Regions from separate parts of the Homo sapiens genome. Here regions 2 and 3 are each linked to region 1. Evidence: fine-mapped expression QTL. A gene starts in region 1. Each other region holds a variant in brackets. All regions are shown on one strand. Distances are from middle to middle.

Evidence for each region. PIP is the estimated chance that this variant, and not a neighbour inherited with it, causes the effect.
Region 2: its variant is fine-mapped to the expression of TCL6 in whole blood (TOPMed, PIP above 0.99).
Region 3: its variant is fine-mapped to the expression of TCL6 in whole blood (TOPMed, PIP above 0.99).

What each region holds. Positions count from the first base shown.
Region 1 is chr14:95,649,243-95,656,360 of GRCh38, reverse strand. It overlaps TCL6 (T cell leukemia/lymphoma 6), which reads right to left and starts at 4,264. Exons shown (of 8, transcript NR_028288.2): 1 at 4,135-4,264; 2 at 3,872-3,984; 3 at 1,735-1,852.
Region 2 is chr14:95,679,519-95,686,636 of GRCh38, reverse strand. TCL1B (TCL1 family AKT coactivator B) reads right to left here and starts at 211. Exons shown (of 4, transcript NM_004918.4): 1 at 8-211. The coding sequence starts at 169. The variant A/C (reference allele first, on the strand shown) is at 3,765.
Region 3 is chr14:95,661,014-95,668,131 of GRCh38, reverse strand. LOC124903372 reads right to left here and starts at 3,319. Exons shown (of 2, transcript XM_047432042.1): 1 at 3,056-3,319; 2 at 1-6. The coding sequence starts at 3,109. It overlaps TCL6 (T cell leukemia/lymphoma 6), which reads right to left. Exons shown (of 8, transcript NR_028288.2): 4 at 5,468-5,652. RefSeq lists enhancers at 772-1,418, 2,065-2,712, 4,782-4,861. The variant C/A (reference allele first, on the strand shown) is at 3,411.

The sequences.
Region 1 (7,118 bases):
GAGGATCACTTAGGCCCAGGAATTCGAGGCTGCAGTGAGCTAGGATTGCACCACTGCACTCCAGCCAGGGCAAAAGAGTGAGACCCTGTCTTTTAGAAAAAAAAATTAAAATATTAAAGAATGTCAGAGAAAAAAAATAGTTCAATGATAGTAATAGCTAACATTAATTCAGTTCATTAAATTCCAGGAACTATTTTAAGTATTTTATGTGTAACTTCTAGTGAGAAAAAACTGGTCTCATTAATAAACATGTTGGAATTTAAAATGCCATCAAATCTCAATGGCCATGTTGAGTGCTAGAAGATGAGGGGGCAATGCCTTCAAAGTTCTGAGGGGAAATATTTCCCACCCTAGAGTTTGTGAACCAAAAAATATCTGAGACAGGTCTCAATCCATTTAGAAGTTTATTTTGCCAAGGTTAAGGACATGCCTGGAAGAAAAGGACACAGAATCACAGAAACAAGTCTATGATCTGTCCCTTTCTCCAAAGATGATAGTGAGGGCTTCAATATTTAAATGGGGGAAACAGACATGGAAAAATTCATCTCTGGAGGGGATAGAGGAAGGGTATGGTAATCCACACATTGCAAGAGGAGAAGAGCAGCTAGGGAATAGTCAGTTACATATCTGTCTCCTGCTCAGTAAATCAGCACTTTACATAAGATAAGGTGAACATGGAGTAGCTACCTGTGGAGATATTTAATCTTTTATCTGTAGCCATCTACTTAGGAGCAAAAGAAAAGGCAGTTTCTTGCATGACTCAGCTTTCAGCTTCTTTTTTTTTTTTCCTTTTGGCATACTGAATTGGGGTCCTGAGTTTTTATTTTCCTTTCACAAGTTCAACATCCAGTCGCATTATTAATCAAAGGTTAGGGTCAAACAAAAACATTGTCAGATAAGGAGGGGCTCAAAAAATGGGTCTCCTGTGCACCCTTTCTTAGGAAGCTACTGGAGAACAGGTTTTAGCAAAAGAAGATAATAAGAAAGAGAAAAATGCATGTTAAAAGATAATTTTCAAAAACAGGTTAAATGATAACTCAATATAGATATAAAAATGAATATGTGCTGTAACAGTCCATTTGCACACTGCTATAAAGAACTACCTGAAACTGGGTAATTTATAAAGGAAAGAGGTTTAATTAACTCACAGTTCCACATCGCTGGGGAGACCTCAGGAAACTTACAATCATGGCAGAAAGCGAAGGAAAAGCGAGCACCTTTTTCACAAAGTGGCCAGAGAGAGAGAGAGAGAGAGAGAGAGAGAGAGAGAGAGAGAGAAGGGGGAACTGCCAAACACTTTTAAACCATCAGATCTCGTGAGAACTCATTCACTATATGGGAACACCATGGGGAAAACCACCCCCCATGATCCAATCATCCCCTACCAGGTCCATCCCTTGACACACAGGGGGATTACGATTCAAGATGAGATTTGGTGGGGACACAGAGCTAAACAATATCACGTGCTGCTCAAGATTATGTTTAACTCCTCAGTGAAGAAACTGAAGAGGTGTGACAGCCAATTCAAAGGAGAATCTGAAGGACAGGCACATTTATTGATCAGAAATATTGAAATGGGCTGGGCACAGTGGCAAATGCCTGTAATCCCAGTAAGTTGGGAGGCCAAGATGGGAGGATCACTTGAGCCCAGGAGTTTGAGACCAACCAGGGAAACACAGGGAGAGCCCATCTCTATAATTTTTTTTTTAATTTGCCAGATATGATGACACGTGCCTGTAGTCTTAGCTGCTTGGGAGGCTGAAGTGGGAGGATCTCTTGAGCCCAGGAGGTTGAGACTACAGTGAGCCGTGATTGCACCACTGCACTCTGGCCTGGCACAGAGGGAGATAACCTAAAAAAAAAGAAAAGAAGGAAGAGAAGAGAAATATTGAAATGAATGTGTAAAATGGAAGCAAACTAGGGGATTTGGGGGGAAGTGAGGAAGGGTTGTCTCTCTTCAAAATATAAGCATTTGCATATCCATAGACAAGAATTATTTTTCATTTCTATCGGTTATCTGTAGCTTTCAGAATGGTAAAATAGGTCCCATAGAATTGGAATCAGATAACATGGAAGAGTATGCCCTAGACAGAGAAATATTCTGTTCCTTGCCTCCCACTGAAGCAGAGTGTTTTCTACAAATGCAATCCAGGTAAAGGAGAATACCTGTTAGGAAGCCTGGGAAGAGCATTCCGGGGTGGGGTTGGGATGGGCTGAGAGATGCCAATCAACTTGTGAATACACAGCTAAACAAACTCAACAAAACATGATTTGCTTTTGTTTTTTTGAGACAGAGTCTCACTCTGTCACCCAGGCTGAAGTGCAGTGGCATGATCTTGACTCACTGCAACCTCCACCTCCTGGGTTCAAGCAATTCTCCTTCCTCATCCTCCCAAGTAGCTGGGACTACAGGTACCTGCCACCACGCCTGGCTAAGTTTTTTATATTTTTTAGTAGAGACACAGTTTCGCCATGTTGGCCAGCCTGGTCTTGAACTCCTGACCTCAACACCATGACTGGCCTAAACAAAATATGTTTTAAAAGTCTTCTCCCAGGCTGGGCATGGTGGCTCCCACCTGTAATCCCAGAACTTTGAGAGGCTAAGGCAGGGGTATTGCTTGAACACAGGAGTTCAATACCAGCCAGGGCATCATACTGTGACCCCCATCTCTATAAAAATAAAATAAAAATCGTATCCCTGTAATCCCACCAATTTGGGAGGCTGTGGTGGTAGGATCACTTGAGGCCAGAAGTTTGAGACCAGCCTGGGCAACACAGTAAGACCTCCATCTATACAAAAAGTTTTAAAATTAACCAGGCATGGTGGCGCATGTGTGTAGTCTCAGCTACTTGGGAGGCTGAGAAGGGAGGATCATGTGAGCCCAGGGAGGTAGAGGCTGCAGTAATCCATGATTGCACCACTGCACTCCAGCCTGGACGATAGAGTGAGATCATTAACAAATAAAAACAGTCAAGCTCTGTAAAATATTTGAAGAGATTTATTCTGAGCCAAATATGAGTGACCATGGCCTGTAACACAGCCCTCAGGAGATCCTGAGAACTATGCCCAAGGTGGTCGGGGTGCAGCTTGGTTTTATACATTTTAGGGAGACATGAGATGTCAATCAAATACATTTAAGAAATACATTGGTTCTGTCCAGAAAGGTGGGACAACTTGAATTGTTGGGTGGAGGTTGGGGGCTCCCAGGTTACAGGTAGATTTAAAATTGACTGGTTGACAATTGGTTAAGTTTATCTAAAGATCTGGGCTCAATAGAAAGAAAATGTCTGTGCTGTGATAGGAGGTTGTGGAGACCAAAGTTTTACCATGCAGATGAAGCCTCCGGGTAGCAGGCTTCAGAGAAAATAGATTGTAAATGCTTCTCATCAGAGAGGTATAATGAGTCCTGTCTGACCTCTACTTTCCATCATGGCCTGAACCAGTCTTTCAGGTTAAAAGTACCCTGGCCCAGGAGGAAGTCCATTCAGATGGTTGCAGGGAGGGCGGGGCTTAGAATTTTATTTTTGGTTTACATCCTGTCTCAAAAGAAAAAAAAAAAGAATAAAAGAGTTTTTGGTTTACACCCTGTCTCAAAAAAAAAAAAATGAAAGAAAAGAAAAATCTCAAGGACATCTAAAAGCTGATAAGACAGAAATTACCAGGCCAAAAATAAAAGGGAAGTAGAATGCAGAAAGGGAAAAAAAACAGAATGGAAGCTGCTTTTTCCCTGAGAGCTTTTTCAGAACCTGAAAATCAGAACTTGTTTGAGCCTCCCGGAGACTGGTGGAGAAAGAAGTCCAGCCAGGCCCTGCCCAACTCTAAAGGAAAACCCAAACTTGTCGATATTTGATGAGACTATAAATCGCTTGCCTCTTTTCACTCTCTGGTGCTCCAGCAGCACAGCCCCACACCAACCTTCATCTGGAGTGTCTCAAGACCTTCTGGAATCTTCTCCCACACATACCTCCTTACACAGGTCCATTCTGTGAAAATAAGCAATTCAAAATCTAAGCTGTTGGAACTTTAAAATATTTCGAGCCTTAAGGGAATTTGATCATGGGACCTGAGTCATGTAAACAGGCAGCTGCAACCTTTGTTTCTCTGATTATAGATTAGCCTTTTTCCTTACTTACATTGTTGTGTAAAATGTCGTATATGACTGAAGCGTTCCAGGGAAGACCCCTTTCCTCTTCACTGTTGATCTTCATTATAGATTAACTCCCTCTTTCCTCTCTGACAGAGACTTCATGACCATCACATTGTCTGGGATAGAATGTTAAACACATTCTTAAATTGGAAAGGAAATGAAAACAAGCTGTAGAGAAAAGAAAACAAGGTGGAGGCAGGGGAACAACCTATAATTAATTATAGGTTGTAACTCATAAACCAGCCTTGCATAGAAAATGTTAAACAAGAAAGTTAAAACAAGAAAAGTTATACAAGAAAATGTTCTACAAGGTTACTAAATGTCTTTGCTTTCTGCCTATGTAAGCAAGACTTTAACTTTTAACTTCAGGGCCCTGGCCCCATTTTCCTAGAGTCTGTGTTTCTCAGATGGCCATTCCCAGCTTTTGGCTTGAATAAACTCTTTAAAACTGGATTCTGGGCTGGGTGCAGCGGCTCACGCCTGTAATCCCAGCACTTTGAGAAGCTGAGACAGGAGAAATCACTTAAGCCCAGGAGTTCGAAACCAGCCTGGTCAATAAAGTGAGACCGATTAAAGAGAAGTAAACTTAAAAACGAACAAAAACAACTTTGTTTTTAAAACTTAAAAACTTAAAAACAACGAAAACCCTGGATTCTGATCCTTTCAATTACTTTATATTGACAATTCTACTATGGGTGCTGCCCAATCAGCCTTGTAAAGCACAGGGCTGACCACTTCAACTCCCTGCTGAGGGTTGAATCTGGAATAAAATCCAGATTCCAGAGCTACGGTGCCCTTAGATCTGGGGCTGTTGCTTTTGTACTTCTGTTTTTCCACTTTACTTAGCTGAAGCACAATCCCTACAGCAAGCTAAGAAAGGAAAAGGTCCATTCCAAAACCCTTCGCTCCCTAGACCACTGCTCTGTGTGCAGACAACGAAAACAGCCGAGAGTTCACACAAAAGGGAAGGACTAACTGCCCGGGGCAGGCTTCAAGGAATGCCTGTTAAGCCCCAGGGAGGAAGTGGCTGTTGACTTGGGAAGAGTCCGTTGGGTAGTCAAGGGCTAAGGTGGTGGTTGACATGAAGGCAAATTTTCCATGCCCTGGTGAGAAGTTGGAATCCTTGCTGTGAACGTTGGGTAGTACAGTTTGCAGGACCATTTGCTTGGCTATTGGGTCCCACCTGTTGACAGGTGCCAAGCCTGATTTTCCTTGGCCTTCCCTCCTGATTTAGCTGAACACCAACCTTCTCAACACAACCCCGAAGTACACCTTGCTCAGTTTTTAACAGAGCTGCTAGATTTCAAGGCATGATTCTCAGCACTGTGTCCGGAATTGGTGGGTTCTTGGTCTCACTGACTTCAAGAATGAAGCCGTGGACCCTCGCGGTGAGTGTTACAGCTCTTAAGGTGGCGTGTCTGGAGTCTGTCCCTTCTGATGTTCAGATGTGTTCGGAGTTTCTTCCTTCTGGTGGGTTCGTGGTCTCGCTGGCTCAGGAGTGAAGCTGCAGACCTTCGCGGTGAGTGGTACAGCTCTTAAGGTAGCGTGTCTGGAGTTGTTCATTCCTCCCGGTGGGCTCGTGGTCTTGCTGGGCTCAGGAGTGAAGCTGCAGATCTTCGCGGTGAGTGTTACAGCTCATAAAAGCAGCGTGGACCCAAAGAGTGAGCAGTAGCAAGATTTATTGCAAAGAGCAAAAGAACAAAGCTTCCACAGTGTGGAAGGGGACCCGAGCGGGTTGCCAATGCTGGCTCGGGCAGCCTGCTTTTATTCTCTTATCTGGCCCCACCCACATCCTGCTGATTGGTATAGGGATAAGCAAGTACCTAGCCACCACCATCTTTGCTCCCAGCGTGGCTCACCTGCCTAGCTCAAACCTTCATGGAGCTGTGATCTGTACCCCAGGATACAAACAAAAGTGGGCACCATCCCATGGTCCATATCAAATTCATGACCAGCTCCCAGAGGACCCTCCTGCTGCCATGCTGATCCTCAGGCTGCAGACCTGCTTGACTCTTCACACCTGGCTACTACTGCACTCCAGGATTCTCAATATGACCCCTCCATCCACCCAGCTGCCAGGACCAGAAACCCTGGCCATGCAGTAAGAATTCACTCAACAAACACTGAGCCCCAACTCTGGTCAGGCACTGGGGACAAATCAGATGTGGCTCTACCCTGCTGCAGCTTGCAGTGTGACTGGGAGTGATGACGGTCCCTAGCCTCAGCCTGTCACCTTGCATCCGTCAGTCCCACATCAGCCCGTTTACCTCAGGCTCAGATTGTCCATCGCAGGGACCATGCAGCTCAGTGTTGGCCCTGCCTCTGGGCTTGCCCCTCCAGCTCCCCCTTCACTCTGCTTCCAGAGATACATTGCCCATTCTAATTTAATTTTACCTCTTCCCAAATAAAACTCCTCAGTAGATGCCAATTGTTTTTAGGATAAAATTAACCACCTTGTTTTGGCACCCACAGGACTGCATGACCCTCATGCCAGGCCCCCAGCTCAGACATGTTGGTTCAGATGGAGCACCTGGCAGTTCCTTGAATGGGTCACACCCATCACACCTCACACTGCTGCCATGCTGGCCTTGTGCCATGAATGTCCCGCCTCCTCCTGCATGGTGCCTTGGTCAGATAGGCTTCGACTTGTCTCCCATATTTCAGAAAGTCTTCCCTGCCCCTCCAAACCAGGCTCCATGCCCTCTGGTTCCCCATAGCGCCCAAGCCACGCTCTGCAACAGCACACATCGTACTGAATGGTAAATATTTACAGTCTGTCTTCTACACTAGACCATGAGGGCCTTGAGGACGAAGACAATAAAGCCATTCATTTCTGCATCATCAGAAACTAGCCCAGCACTCAGTATATATGTACCTGGTGAATATTTACTATATGAATGAATGTAATGATTAAGTAATGTGTCTAGACTTCATGTTTGGCCCACCGGCACTAATAATACCTCCTTAATC
Region 2 (7,118 bases), 30 kb before region 1:
GACTCACTCTGCTGCCCTGGGAGGCCCTGGCCCATTCCCTACGCGAGGGATTGAACCGCACGACCACAGTCACCCAGGTTCTCCCCTCCTCATCTTCGTAGATGCCAGGCCTCTGGATCCACAGACGGCCAGGGGGCACCCCTAGACGCACAGAAGCTTCGGAGGCCATGGCAAGTCTGCAACCGGGACCCGCCTCTAGGCTCACACGTGTAGCTTTCCAGCTGCGCAATCTCCTTAAATGGAGCAGCTCCGGCGTGGGTGGGGCCCGGGCCGGCAGTGGGGGCGGGGCCGGCAGTGGGGGCGGGGCCAGTCGGGGGAGGAGGGGGAGGAGGAGGAAGGGGGAGGAGGGAGGAGGGAGGAGGGAGGAGGAGGAGGGGGGAAAAAAGCAACCTGCAGCAGGGGCTAGGCAGGGACGAGGCCAAAGAGCAGCGGAGTTAGGAACCCGGCCTGGGTCTCCTGGAGGGGCTGTGGCTGGACCGGCAGCTGCTGGAGGCAAAAGGGCGGCTCCCGGGGATAGAGCTGCCCAGGCTTCACCCCAGGCCTCTGCAAGGAATTTGGCTCCTAAGACCTATTCCACCTCCCTTCCACTGGTCCCAGTCCCTCCGCAGCCTCCTCCCTGAGCACCCCTGCCCAATTTTCTGTCAGGTGATTCCCCTCCTTTGCTCCCCACGACCCCCTGCCAACCATCCTGCCCCAGATCCTGAGCTGGCATGCACGACCCTGGTCTCTCCTATCCCTGTGGCCATTCCTTTAACAGGACTCTGTGTCAGGGACCCTTCTCTGAGCTTAGAGCTTAGAGGCATGGGGGGCGGGGGGCGCTGTAACCTCAGTGGACTCTTGCCCCTGGAGGTATCTGGTGAAGGCGCATCCTGCACAAATCAAGCTCCCTCTCCTTAGAAAATAAGCCAGTGCACTATCAGCATCTGAGCTCAGGATCAGATAAAGCCCACAGAAACAAGGCCACCGGAGGCCACGTGGCCACCTGGCCAGCCCATCCTTGGCCATGGGGCCCAGAGTGCCCACTTGGCCTGGTCGTCTTACTTGCTCGACTTTGTCAAGAGGCCTCAGAAGCTCAAGAACATAGCAAGAAGCAGGTCCGTTCTATAAGCACCCTGGGCTGCTTCTAAATGCACCATGAATAGGAACCTTTTCCTTTTGAAAACCACAAGCATGATTCTTCTAGTTCAAGTGAAGATTAGTATTGAGATGATGCCATTCTGCTGGGGAGATGTGAAAATGATTTCTGGACAGTCCTGATCCAGTGTAAATGGCAGGTAGGATAACCACTTTTGAAGAACTCCCTGGGCAGCTTCTGTGGAGGACTGAGTCTTGTTTTCACAGCAATTCCACCTCCATCCCCAGTGTTTTTCCAAGGAACCAACACTTGGGGTGGGAATGGAGTGGGCCAGGAAGACAAGGGACATCACAGTCTCATATAATGTGATCCATACATGGAATCACGTACGTGTGTCACCTTTGCCATATTCCATTGGTCAGGGGTAGGTCCTATCCTTACTCAAGGTTATGAATACCAGGAGGCAGGGATCATGGGGACCCCTGGTCTCCTGGGCCCCCCTGAAGCCTGTTTGCTGTAGGTACCTACCCTATGGGACTCCTCTGAGGATCAGATGAGGCTGTGTGTATAGTGTTAAAGCCTGACACATAGTGAATACTTGAAATACCCTGGTCAATAGTTATGTTCTCAGACTAGTTCCCTCTCCCAGGCAGAATCCATCATTCCTACCCTTGTAACCCCAATGCAATTGCTATTTATCTCTATCATTTTCTGTTGCAAATATATATTTTGATATTCTCAACCTCACTCCCTGATGGGCAGGTGTGTGGCTGTCAGTGGGGTTGGAGGTAAAGGTTGCCTAATATGTGGGGAGCCCCTATGCCATGTCAGGCATTTTTCATAGGGTATCTCACTAACACCTCCCAACAACTCCATAAACTAGAGACCGTCACCCCCATTTCATAGATGAAGTATCAGAGGCTTGAGTGGCTTAGCAACCTGAATGAAGTGGGTAGCAGAGGAAGGATATGGACCCAGCTGTTCCTGGCTCTAACATGCATGCTGCTTGTTGACTGCCTTGGCCAAGTTTGGCTCATTACATGGAAGAGGCAGAACCTGGAGTAGGGAGATCCACAGTGGCTACTGTAGAAATGGTGGTGGGGTCTGAAGATGGAGACTGAGAACACCTTGCCATGAGTGGGTGGTCAGAAGGTAAGCAGAGGTCTCCATAGGCAGAAAGAAATAACTACCAGTTAGCCTCAAGGTGGAAAATAGATTGCTTCACCGATCACCCTCTTTGGCCAGGTCTCCCATCCCTCAACCCTTGGACCTGGTATGAAAAAAGCCACGGAGCTGCAGGTGACAACAGTTTGGTTCCTGGTCCTTCAGCTGGTCTTTGTCCATGTCATGTCTGAGATAAGTGAGATAAGGCTATGTCTTCTGGCCAAGTTGTCCATCTCTGGTACCTGTGACCTGAAGGATTCACTCTCCGGGGTAGGTGTCACCAATGTCTTTGAGAACCACTTTGATCTCTCCAGAATTGCTCCCAGGATTGCCTGGTACTGATGGTGCACTCATGCCTGGGCCCAATGCTCTCCTCCTCCAGCAGAGGGAGCCCTTCACAAGCCCCAAGCCCTGGGGACGTTGAGGCTGGACACCCACTTGCCGGAAGGATTCCAGACCACAAACAAGGAGGCGCTGTGCAGGGCTTGGAAGGCTGGGTAAGAGTCACTGATACCTCTGCACATTTCTGTTCAGCTCCTCCTAGGTACTGGGCCAAAATGGCAGGGCAGACAAGATGCCAAAGGCAGACAGCCTAGACAGGGCATGGTTTAGATGGAACTGGCAAAGTTGTCCCACCGAGTAAGCAGCATGAGTAGACCTGGAGGAGAGGTAATTCAGGGTGTGTCTGGAGATCAGGAATAATGAGGATTATCCAAGCTCATATGATAAAGAATAAGAATGTGGTGGTGGTGGGGGCAGGGGTGGTATTGATGCTCCATTGTAAGCATCAAACACGCCAGTCCCAGCAGCTGGTTTTGAATGATGAGCAATGAGTGTTTGAGACAAGGAGTGACATAAGTATGCACTTAATGTTAGAACTAATGATAAAACCAAAGAGTGGCTTAGTATCAAGTAGATCATGACTACTAGAGAAAAGACTGGATGGGGATTGTGCAGATAATAACAAAAACAAGAACATCCAAGTTCCAGCTCTGCTTATTTCAGACAGTGAGCAGAGCAAACTTGCAAAGTGGTAAAAGAAAGTCAACCCAACCACGGAACTGAAGAATGAGGGTTTAGGAAAGTTTTGCTTATGTACACTATTTTCTTCTAAAGATTTTATTTAGATTAATTTTTCCATGTTGATATCCAATTAATGCCAATTATTTAAAAGACTATGCTTTGTCTACTGTACGGTATTATCACTTCTGTCATAAATCTGGGAACATTTATGTATGAGTCTGTTTCTGGACACTTTTCTATTCCATTAGTCTGTTTGTCTCTCCTTGTGTTGATACCACATTGCTAATTACTATAGCTTTAAAATAGGTCTTTATATCTTATTGTAAGATTCTGTTTCTCTGGAGAACCCTAATATAGCTATTCTCTTCCCTTTACATATCCATATGCATTTTAAAATCAGCTTGTTAATCCTCCCCACCTCCAAAAGCCTGCTAAGATTGATTGGGATTGTGTTGAATCTATAGGTATATTTGAAGAGAATTAACATCTCCAACATATTAAG[A/C]CTTACGATCCGAAGCAATTGCATAGTGTATCCTTCCATATTTTGGGTTGTCTTTAACTGTTCTCTCTGATTTCATTAAATTAACTCTTAAGTATTTGATTGATGCTATTTTAAATGTCATTTCAAATTATGTATTATGTTTGTTGCTGTTATAAAAAAATGCAACTGGTTTGTGTGCATTGACACTATATCTAAGACCTAGATAAATTGACTTAACTCTAATAGTTTATCCACTATTTGAGGAAATGTCTTAGCCATTGTATCTTCAACTATTCCCGTCTCATCCTTTCTTTTCCTCCCTTTCCCTCTCTTTCAGTGACTCCAATTACACATTGTCAGACCCTTTAAACAAGTGTACCGTGCTCTCTATGCTCTGTTCTTGTTTTGTTTCCTTTTTTTTCCTCTCTGAGCTTCAATGTTGATGTTTTCTATTAGTTTATCTTCCAGTTCACTAATGCTGACATCTGCTATAACCAATCTGCTCTCAAACAATTCATTTCTTTGCTGCAAATATTATATTTATTAGTTCCAGGATGCCCATTTGATGCTTTTTTTAAAGATTAAAACTTTATCTGATAATCTCTACACTCTTAATCATTTTGTCCATCATTCTATTTCTTTGGACATAATCATGGTTACTTTAAAGTTCTTGTCTAATAACTCTGGTTTACTGGTGGGCCTCCTTCTATTGTCTACTTTTTCTCTTGGTTTTTAGTTAAATGGTCTTTTCTCTTGAGTAATATTTAAAGGAATGCCAAATATTTTGTATAAAAGCACTGGAAAGACTCTAGCGTTTTCCCCCCAAGTAGAGTTAACCCTATTCTCTGCTAGGCAGATAGAGTGAAGTATTAAACAGTTTAATCCCAATAGGGACTAAACTGAGTCAAGGTTAAGATGCAGTTTGGATAAGAATCAGTCTATCCAGCCAGGCACAGTGGCTCACTTTGTAATCCCCACACTTTGGGAAGCCAAGGTGGGTGGATCGCTTGAGCTCAGGAGTTTGAGACCAGCCTGGGCAACACAGTGAGACCCCCATCTCTACAAAAAAATATAAAAAGAGCTGGGTACAGTGGTGCATGCCTGTAGCTCCAGCTGAGGCTGAGGTGGGAGGATCACTTGAACCCAGGAGGTCAAGGCTGCAGTGAGTCAAGATTGAGCCACTGCACTCCAGCCTGGGTGACAGAGTGAGACCCTATATTAAAAAAAAAAAAATTGCCTATCTATCTCTAGTTTGCCCTGCTCTTAGAGTATGACCCTCAATCAAGAGTCTGGTAGGTCTTTGTCTCAGCACTGTGAACAAAATTCTCTGGAAAGGAAACTGGAGGAAAGAGACTTTATATTCCAGTGAATAGTTTGCAAACCAGGGAGATGCAGCCTTCAGTGTAAAACAAGATGTGTTCCAGAGCACAAAGGGAGGGTTGGGGTTCTGTAGCAAAAGTTTCCACCCAGGTTCCCAATCAGGTCCATTTATGCAAATGAGAGATTCAGACTCAGGTAGTTCCAATTAGTTGATACAGCTGAGCCTTGATTGGTCAAGGCAGGTGGGCTCTGATTGGTTGGTTTAGGCGTGCTCTGAAAGTCACCAAGTCAAACAGAGGTGTTGGATTTCTGGGAACTCAGGAGTACCTATGTGATTTCTAGTTAGCAGATGGCTGCTTGGCTGTATTTTACTATTTCACATTTAGGCCTCGTTAGCCACTGGGGATCTTTCTGTCTTTTTTTTTTTTTTTTTTCCTTTTGAGATGGCGTCTGGCTCTGTCGCCCAGGCTGGAGTGCAGTGGCGCAATCTCGGCTCACCGCAAGTTCCGCCTCCCGGGTTCACGCCATTCTCCTGCCTCAGCCTCCCGAGTAGCTGGGACTACAGGCGCCCACCATCACGCCCGGCTAATTTTTTTGTATTTTTAGTAGAGACGGGGTTTCACCGTGTTAGCCAGGATGGTCTTGATCTCCTGACCTCGTGATCCGCCCGCCTCGGCCTCCCAAAGTGCTGGGATTACAGGCGTGAGCCACCGCGCCCGGCCTAGGGATCTTTCTTGAAAGATTGGCTCTTTCAGGTTCACATTTGTTCATGACACTAAGAGACTGCAGGAAATTATTTTCCTTTTGGGGGTTTTGGCTTTGCTCTTCAGCATCCTGCCCTGAACTGCTTCAAATTGTAAAAAGCCTGTGGAGAGAGGGTACTGGCCACGCATTTGAGATTCCCTCAAGTCTCCACATTTGTCCAGCTGCACAAAACTCACAGCTAATGTTCTCAGGAAAAAGCAGCTGCAGATGCCTGACAGCAGGGGTCAGTTCACCTGCTCTCCAGCGTTTTCAGCTCCTGCCAAGCTGTTCTCAGGAACTCCACCCCCTGGTGAGCCTTTGTCTTCTCAGGAGACCACAGGGAGCCTGGGCAACACGGTGAGACCCCACTCTACAAAAAATACAAAAAGTACCCGGGAGTGGTGGCACGTGCCTGTGGTCCCAGCTACTCCGGGGCTGAGGTGGGAGGATCACTTGAGCCTGAGAGGTCCAGGCTGCAGTGAGCTGTGATTTTGCCACTGCATTCCTGCCTGGGTGACAGAAAGAGACACTGCCTCAAAAAAAAAAAAAAAGACCACGGGAAATTCCACTCTACTTTCCTGAGGTCTTCAGCTTAGCCTGTCAGCCTCTCACATCACACAGCTTCACAGTTCAGCACCTCTGAAGGAGGAAGCTGGCTGGATGTTTGAGGCCCCCCCAAGCCTCTAATTTGATGACTCCACAGCATCCCCCGACTGGACTCAGCACCAATTTCAGTCTTTGCCCAGGATTATCAAATGACAGGAAGGGAAAGGCATCTGCAGATGCTCACCTCTGAGCTGTCCTCCCTTCTCCAGAATTTTACTTCCTCTGGCCCTTGTTGCTTCCATAGCTCCCCGATGGTTTGGAAAATACAATCTTTATTTTTATTTAGATTTTCCATAGCGTGGCTGTAGTGTTACCAGAAAGGGGTCCCAATCCAGACCTCAAGAGAAGGTTCTTGGACCTCATGCAAGAATTTGGGGCAAGTCCATAGGCTAAAGTGAAAGCAAGTTTATTAAGAAAGTAAAGGAATATAGAATGGCTACTCCATAGGCAAAGCAGCCCTGAGGGCTGCTGGTTGGCTATTTTCATGGTTATTTCTTGATTATATGCTAAACAAGGGGTGGATTATTCATGAGTTTTCCAGGAAAGGGGTGGACAATTGGAATGGAGGGCTCCTCCCCTTTTAGACATATAGGGTAACTTCCTGATGTGTCCATGTCATTTGTAAACTGTCACGGTGCTGGTGGGAGTGTCTTTTATCATGTTAATTTTATAATTAGTGAATAATCAGCAGTGAGGACAACCAGA
Region 3 (7,118 bases), 12 kb before region 1:
CGTGATCTGCAAAAAGGTGAACGTTCACACTCACATTTAATAGCTTCATTCTAACATCTCGGGTACCCCATAAATACATCACTCTGCACCCACAAAAATTAAAAATAAAAAAATTTTAAGTTGTTTTATGATATAAAAATAGCTTGAATCTAACCAAACTATAGACAAAATCATGAGTTTGATATTCTGGTAACTTTTTGGAAATACATAAATGCATATTAATCATTGCAATTCTCTATCTTTGCAGCAGTTATAGCCTATCGGGGAAAAATTCAGAAAAATAGAAAAGCATTATAGATGGGATGGAATCATTAACAAGAGGTAGATTATGAAAATTTCCAAATGAGGGGCATGAGTAGTAGGGGTGACCTGGGCTTCCAAAGGTGCCTCTGGCCACAGAGTGAGGCAGGAGATTCCAGGTGAGCCCAGACAGGAGCAAGGAGGGGGTTGGGCTTGTGACCAGAGCTCGAGTCTGGGAAGGGCCTCCACTGGCCACCCTGAGCACAATGAAGGTGTGGTACAATACCCAGCAGGGGCCTCACCACGTGCAGACATGGGCCCTCACCCCCTCCTGAGCTTAGAGCCCCCAGGGAGGCAGGCAGGAAGTGGTGTTTGCAGACAGCTTTCAGCAGAGTGCCCAGCAGGTGCCCTTTGTGCAGATGGTACAGTTCCCAGGAGCTCTCTCTCAGTGCCCTGCCCTCCAGCCCCACCCCTGGTTCCAGGGAGGGCCACACTAGGGCAGGATCCAGCAGGACAGCAAGAAGCCAGCTCCCTGCCTGCCTGACTACAAGGTGCCTTTTGGCTCTCAGACAGTGCAGTAGTGGAGCAGTGGAGCTGCAGCCAGCCAGAACCCGGTTCAAATTTCAACTCTGCCTCTTACTAGCCGGCTGACCTGGGCACTTTCTTCCTTTTCTGGCCTCTGTCTCCTTTTCTGTAAAACTGAACATGAATATCTGTCTTGTTGGACATTGCATCCACCCGATGTTTACTGGGCATCAGTTAGGAGTTAGGCATTGTTCCTGCTGTGAGATCCCACTGATGCCTGGGGTGACGGATCATCATACTCAACAGAGCTTTCATTTATCAAGTGCTTCTTCTATACCAGACCCGGGATGAAATGCTTTACAGCTAATATCTCGTTTAATCGTCACCAAAAGCCAAGCAGAGGTCGAATCATCCCATTTAACAGTTCAGAAAAAGAAGTCTCATGAGGTGAAACAAGCTGCCCAAAGAGTTTCAGCTTAGCACAGCACAGCTGGGATGGAACCAAGGCCTGTGGGACACCAGCCTGCTTCCCAGCACCTCCCAAGGGGTCCACACCTGGGACATTCTGGGGAAATGCCTGGGATTAGCCAAGGTCCTTGATCCCCTTCCCACACTGCATTGCACACAGGACGGGGCACATTGAGTGTCCATAACCAGTCAGGAGTGACTGGTGGAGGCTTGAACAGCGTGACCAAGCATTCCACCTCACATCAGGGGTCCTGCCCCTAAATCTCAGCGGGACCGCAGCCAAGTGGCTCCCTGACTGGGCCTGGGCAATGAAGAGATGACAGTTGATAAAGATCTTTGGAGAGTTCTCAGAGCACTGATCAAACATAGAGTCACCATTTGGATCAGAGGGAGCTCGTGTTGCTGGCCTTGGATGCTGGCCTGCCACTCTCTAGCTTTGTGACCTTGGGTAAGTGACTTAACCTCTCTGAGCCTCAATCCAACTCAGTTTTCCTGTCTGTATTCCAGGGATAGTAGTAATGCCTTCCTGACAGAGCTCAGAGGTTAAAGGAGATGATGGAGGCAAAGTGCCAGAGCATGGTGCCAGGCCCCAAAGGGTGCAATGATGTGATGGGATCATAAGAAGAGCGGGTATGGTGGCAGCCCCATTTCCCTGCATCCTCCTGGCTCCAAGCATGGGAGGCAACACCCAGTAAACCTGTGGAATTGAGTTGAATCTACCAACCCCAGATAAGAACCCATGTGCAGTGTCATGAAACCACTTGCAGTTATAGGGTAAAGACCTCAGAGGAAAAAAATATGCTTTGTTGGCCGGGCGCAGTGGCTCACGCCTGTAATCCCAGCACTTTGGGAGGCCGAGGTGGGCAGATCACGAGGTAGGAGATCGAGACCATCCTGGCTAACACGATGAAACCCCGTCTCCACTAAAAATGAAAAAAAAAAAAAAAATTAGCCGGGTGTAGTGGCAGGCGCCTGTAGCCCCAGCTACTCGGGAGCCTGAGGCAGGAGAATGGCGTGAACCGGGGAGGCGGAGCTTGCAGTGAGCTGAGATCACGCCACTGCACTCCAGCCTGGGGGACACAGTGAGACTCCGTCTCAAAAAAAAAAAAAAGCTTTGTCCACAGTCCAGGGTGGGAGGCCAGTAGGGGGCTTTACTGAGCAGGGCAGAATCTGTTTTCTTTCCCTCCATATTAGAGTCAAGACCATGTAGGGAGCTCCAAATGCCACGCCTTTCCCCAGCTGGTGGCTGCTGTTATGCTGAACCCCTATCTACTCCAATGGGGATGGCAGCAGGTTTGAGAGGCTGAAGAAAGGACCCAGGGCTGCTGAAGGAGACATGGAGTTTTACTGGGGCTTACATGCAGGGGAGAGCATCTAGCAGTGGTGGGCTGGGCAGGAGAGCCACACAACTTACAAAAAGCTTGCAGCATATATAGCATCTTCACTTAGCACCCTCCCCCAACAGTGTCCACCTGGCAACATTTACCTAACCCAAAACAAAGGGCCTTGATCCCCTGTACTGTCCGTGTTGCACAGGACGGGACAGGAGCTCAGATGTTCCTCATAGATAAGGAATAGGAATGAATCTCCAGGTTGGCCACTCCCAGATTCCTTAGCTCAGAACTCCAAACCACATTCACCTGCACCTGCCATAAGGGTCATTCTCAGGGGATGCTTAAGTTATTGCTATCAGGTGCGTTCACTGTAAGCGGCTTTTGGGGAAATCACCTGCTGGGTCTGGAGGAGCAGGGCTATCATAGGAGAAGGTCCCCCAGGTTCAGAAGAGCCTGGTAATCTCAAGCATATCACCTCCAGGCCTCACCTTCCCCATGCATCCATCCAGGGGCCTCTTCCTCTGTGTCACTCTGGGCTCCATCCTCTTGGTGCATTTGGAGTCAGACGAGACCTGGGTTCAAATCCTTGGCTGGAGGGATGCAAGATGCACGTGGAAGGAGAACCAATTCATCCTGTCCAGGCTCTTCTAGAGCAGCTGGTCTCCTGCCGACCTGTCTAGCTGACCCTAGCACCAGAGCAAGCTCAGCCAAGGTGGGCCAAGCCAGGCCCCGGTTGGCAGAAACACTCAACTGACTTGACACATGTGGGCAACAATAAGTGCTTGCTACATTTCGGTGTGGCTTGTCATGGAGCAATAGCTCACTGGTGTAACCAAGAGGCAG[C/A]AGAGCTGTGCGTGCGGTAAACAAACAGCAGTCCAGCTGCCAAGGAACATTTCATATACGAAGGCAGGAAGCCGTGACAGCACCTGCAGTTTACCAGCAGGGTAGTTATGAGGCCTGGTGCTGTGGGGGTCCTTCTACCACGAGAGAAGCCAGCCTGGGGACAGAGGACAGAGGAGACCCTATTCCCCACTTGTCCCCTCGTGTGCTCCCACATGGCACAGATATTTGATGCTCAGAGCTGTGCCAGGCATCTTACAAAGGTGAAGGAAAGGAAAACTGTATAAATGGGGATGCCAGCTCAGTGCCCTGATCTGATGAACCAGTGCTGGAAGCTTCTGTTCAGGGATAAAAATAAGCCCTTCTTATTTCAGCTACATTGGCAGGCTTTCTGTTGCCTGCTGCTGAAACTCCTATCTGATGCACAGTGGCTGCCTGGTCCCCACAACTCCCTGATTTCTGCAAGACCAGGCCAGACACCAAGAACCTCCCATTCTGTCTCCATGCCAGAGGTCTGTGCCTAGTTGGTGCACTTCTGAATGCAATTAAAAAGCTTGTTTGAGGCCAGGTGCGGTGGCTCGTGCCTGTAATCCCAGCACTTTGGGAGGCCGAAGCAGGTGGATCACTTGGTCAGGAGTTCAAGACCAGCCTGGCCAACATGGTGAAACCTCGTCTCTACTAAAAATACAAAAATTAGCCTGGCATGGTGGTGGGCACCTGTAATCCCAGCTACTTGGGAGGCTGAGGCAGAAGAATCACTTGAACCCGGGAGGTGAAGGCTGCAGTGAGCCGAGATCGCGCCACTGCATTCCAGCCTGAGTGACAGAGCAAGACTCAGTCTCAAAAAAAAAAAAAAAAATGTGTTTGGTGCTCAGCCCAAATGTGGGACAGTCTGTTTCTATTTTATTTTCTCTCAATTGATTCCTTGTGAAAAGTTCTTAACCTGCTCTTTTAAAATACTCTGTGTCACCTCTCCCAAACAGCACAATCCAACAAGGTGCTGACACTGTTCCAAATTGCTGTCCACTTAAGATTAAAGTCCAAAAAGAAAGGGAGAAAATAAATCACAAGACATGAAACTGGCCTCACCACTGCTGTCCCCTCTTTGGCTCCACACACACTCTCAGACTTTCTGTTTCTGATTGCAGGTGTGTAGCTGGAAGGTGAACTGAGATAGCATGAAAACAGGTGGCATGGGCTGCAGAAAGAGCACTGGGGCAGGAAACCTGGATCCTGCGCTGCTCGGATGCACTTGGCTGTGTGACCTTGGACTTGGCCATCCACTCTCTGGGCTTCGGTTTTCTCCTGTGTTCAGGGAATTCTCACTAAGTCCTCTTCCCATTCTGCTCCTCTGTGAGTTGAGTGAGGATCTTTCTCTTTAATTTCAGCCTCCATCTTGTAAACCAAGAAGTATCTGAGACAGGTCTCAATCGATTTAGAGATTTGTTGTGCCAAGGTTAAGGACATGTCTGGAAGTAAAAAGACACGAAATCACAGAAACAGTCGCTAGTCTGTGCCTTTCTCCAAAGATGATTTTGAGGGCTTTGATATTTAAAGTGGAAAAGTAGGCTGGAGAGGAGAAAGGCAGTGTATGGTCACATGACTGAATCCACATGTTGCAAAGGAAACGGAGTAGGTAGGGGATAGTCAATTACGTATTTGTCTCATGCTCAATAAATCAGCAGTTTACGTAAGATAAGGTGAACATACAGTAGCTACCTGTGGAGCTATTTAACCTTTTATCTGTAGCTATCTACTTAGGAGCAAAAGGAAAGTCAGCTTCTTGCATGACTCAGCTTTTGGCTTTTTTTTTTTTTTTTTTTTTTTGCCTTTTTGGCATAGTGAACTGGGTTCTGAAGTTTTAGTTTTCCTTTCAGAACCTGCAGCTGCAGCTGTGTCCCATGAGTGTGGTAAGGCTTAGGGTGTTTTTGGAGATGAGCAGACCCAAGTTTTAATTCCAACTATGATGCCCAAATGCTAAGTTAATGTTGGACAAGTATTTAACCAATCTGATCTTCAGTTTGTCATCTGTGAATGCGGAACAATAATAATAATAATACCTTCTTTTGATAATTAGAGATAATGCATATGAGATATAAGCACAGAGCAGATGTTCCATGGCTGGTAAATATTCTCCCTCTTCCTCTTTGTGTGGTTGTCTGCTTGCTGTGTGTCTATGGAAGTCAGATGAGCATTTGCCCAGAGGTTGGTAGATGGAGCCCACAAGCTCATAAGAATAAAATAACTAGAATGGAAACAGAAAATTAGATGTTCCATATGTTGTAACTCATTTTTGGCTGGAAATTATAGAGACCTTGGTTGGGAGTGTCATTAGATACTTGGAAAGGATGGGCGATGATTAGCACAGGTGGCTGGAGATGAACTCCCTGAACCGGCCCTGACATCTTGTTAGAGAGAGAAAAGCTCACATAGGTGTGAGCCTAGAATTTCAGTTAATATGCATTTATTCTGTATCTTGTCATCACAAAGTTGAGTTTCGCAGTCTGCTAAGAAGAGCAAAGAACTTCCCAATAATATTGAAAGGTAATAGTCCTAAGGACCTTGAAAAGCTACATTTGTTAAGGAGTTTACTGTAGAATAGCATGCTTGTTCAGTAAAAGTGAAAAACCACCTTTGTCACAGGTGGTTGATTTCACCGGACAGCGCTGGCGATCATTAACCCACCATGACCTCCCACATTCGCCTTCAGTCACCTCCACCTGTTTTTGCCGGATGCAAAGTATCTGTTTGATGCCAGATAAGTATTTGTTTTGCAAATAAGAATAATGTGGCCGGACGCGGTGGCTTACGCCTGTAATCCCAACGCTTTGGGAGGCCAAGGCAGATCACCTGAGGTCAACAGTTCGAGACCAGCCTGGCCTACATGGCAAAACCCTGTCTCTACTAAAAATACAAAAAAGTTAGCTGGAGATGGTGGTGCACACCTGTAATCCCAGCCACTTGGGAGGCTGAGACAGGAGAATCGCTTGAACCCAGGAGGCAGAAGTTGCAGTGAACCGAAATGGTGCTACTGCACTCCAGCCTGGGTGACAGAGTGAGACCACATCTAAAAAAAAAAAAAAAAAAAAAAAAGTTTAAGTTCTAGATCTACAGATGATCCTGGATCGCCCACATAGGCCCTAAATGTCATCACAAATGTCCTTATAAGAGGGACAGAGGGACATCTGACTGCAGAAAAGGAAAGGCAACGTGAAGACGAAAGCAGAGGGAGATCTGAGGATGCTACACTACTGGCTTGGAAGAGAAGCAAGGGGGACGAAGGGCCAAGGAATGCAGCTCTCCAAGCTAGAAAAGTTCAGGAAGCAGATTCTCCCCTAAAGCCTCAGGAGAGAGCACAGCCCTACCTTGGTTTCAGCCCAGTGAAACTCGTTCTGCACCTTTGACCTCCAGAACTACCAGACAATGTTTGAAGGCACTCAGTTTGTGGGATTTGTTACAGCAGCCCTAGGAAGCTGACATCCCTGTTAAGGCTCAGCGTTGTTCCCAGACAGGGGACTGAGAGCAGGATCCATCCAGCGCTGCTCAGATCTTGCTGTTACCTTCAGGAGGTCCCAGGGAAGAGTTTGGAAAAGGGGAGGCTTTGGGTGTGGAATAGTTAAGTGACTTGTCATACAACCACACCAGAGGACGCTGTGTGGGTGTTAAAAATGACATCCCACAGAGCTTGGATGATGCAGGGAAATGCTTAGG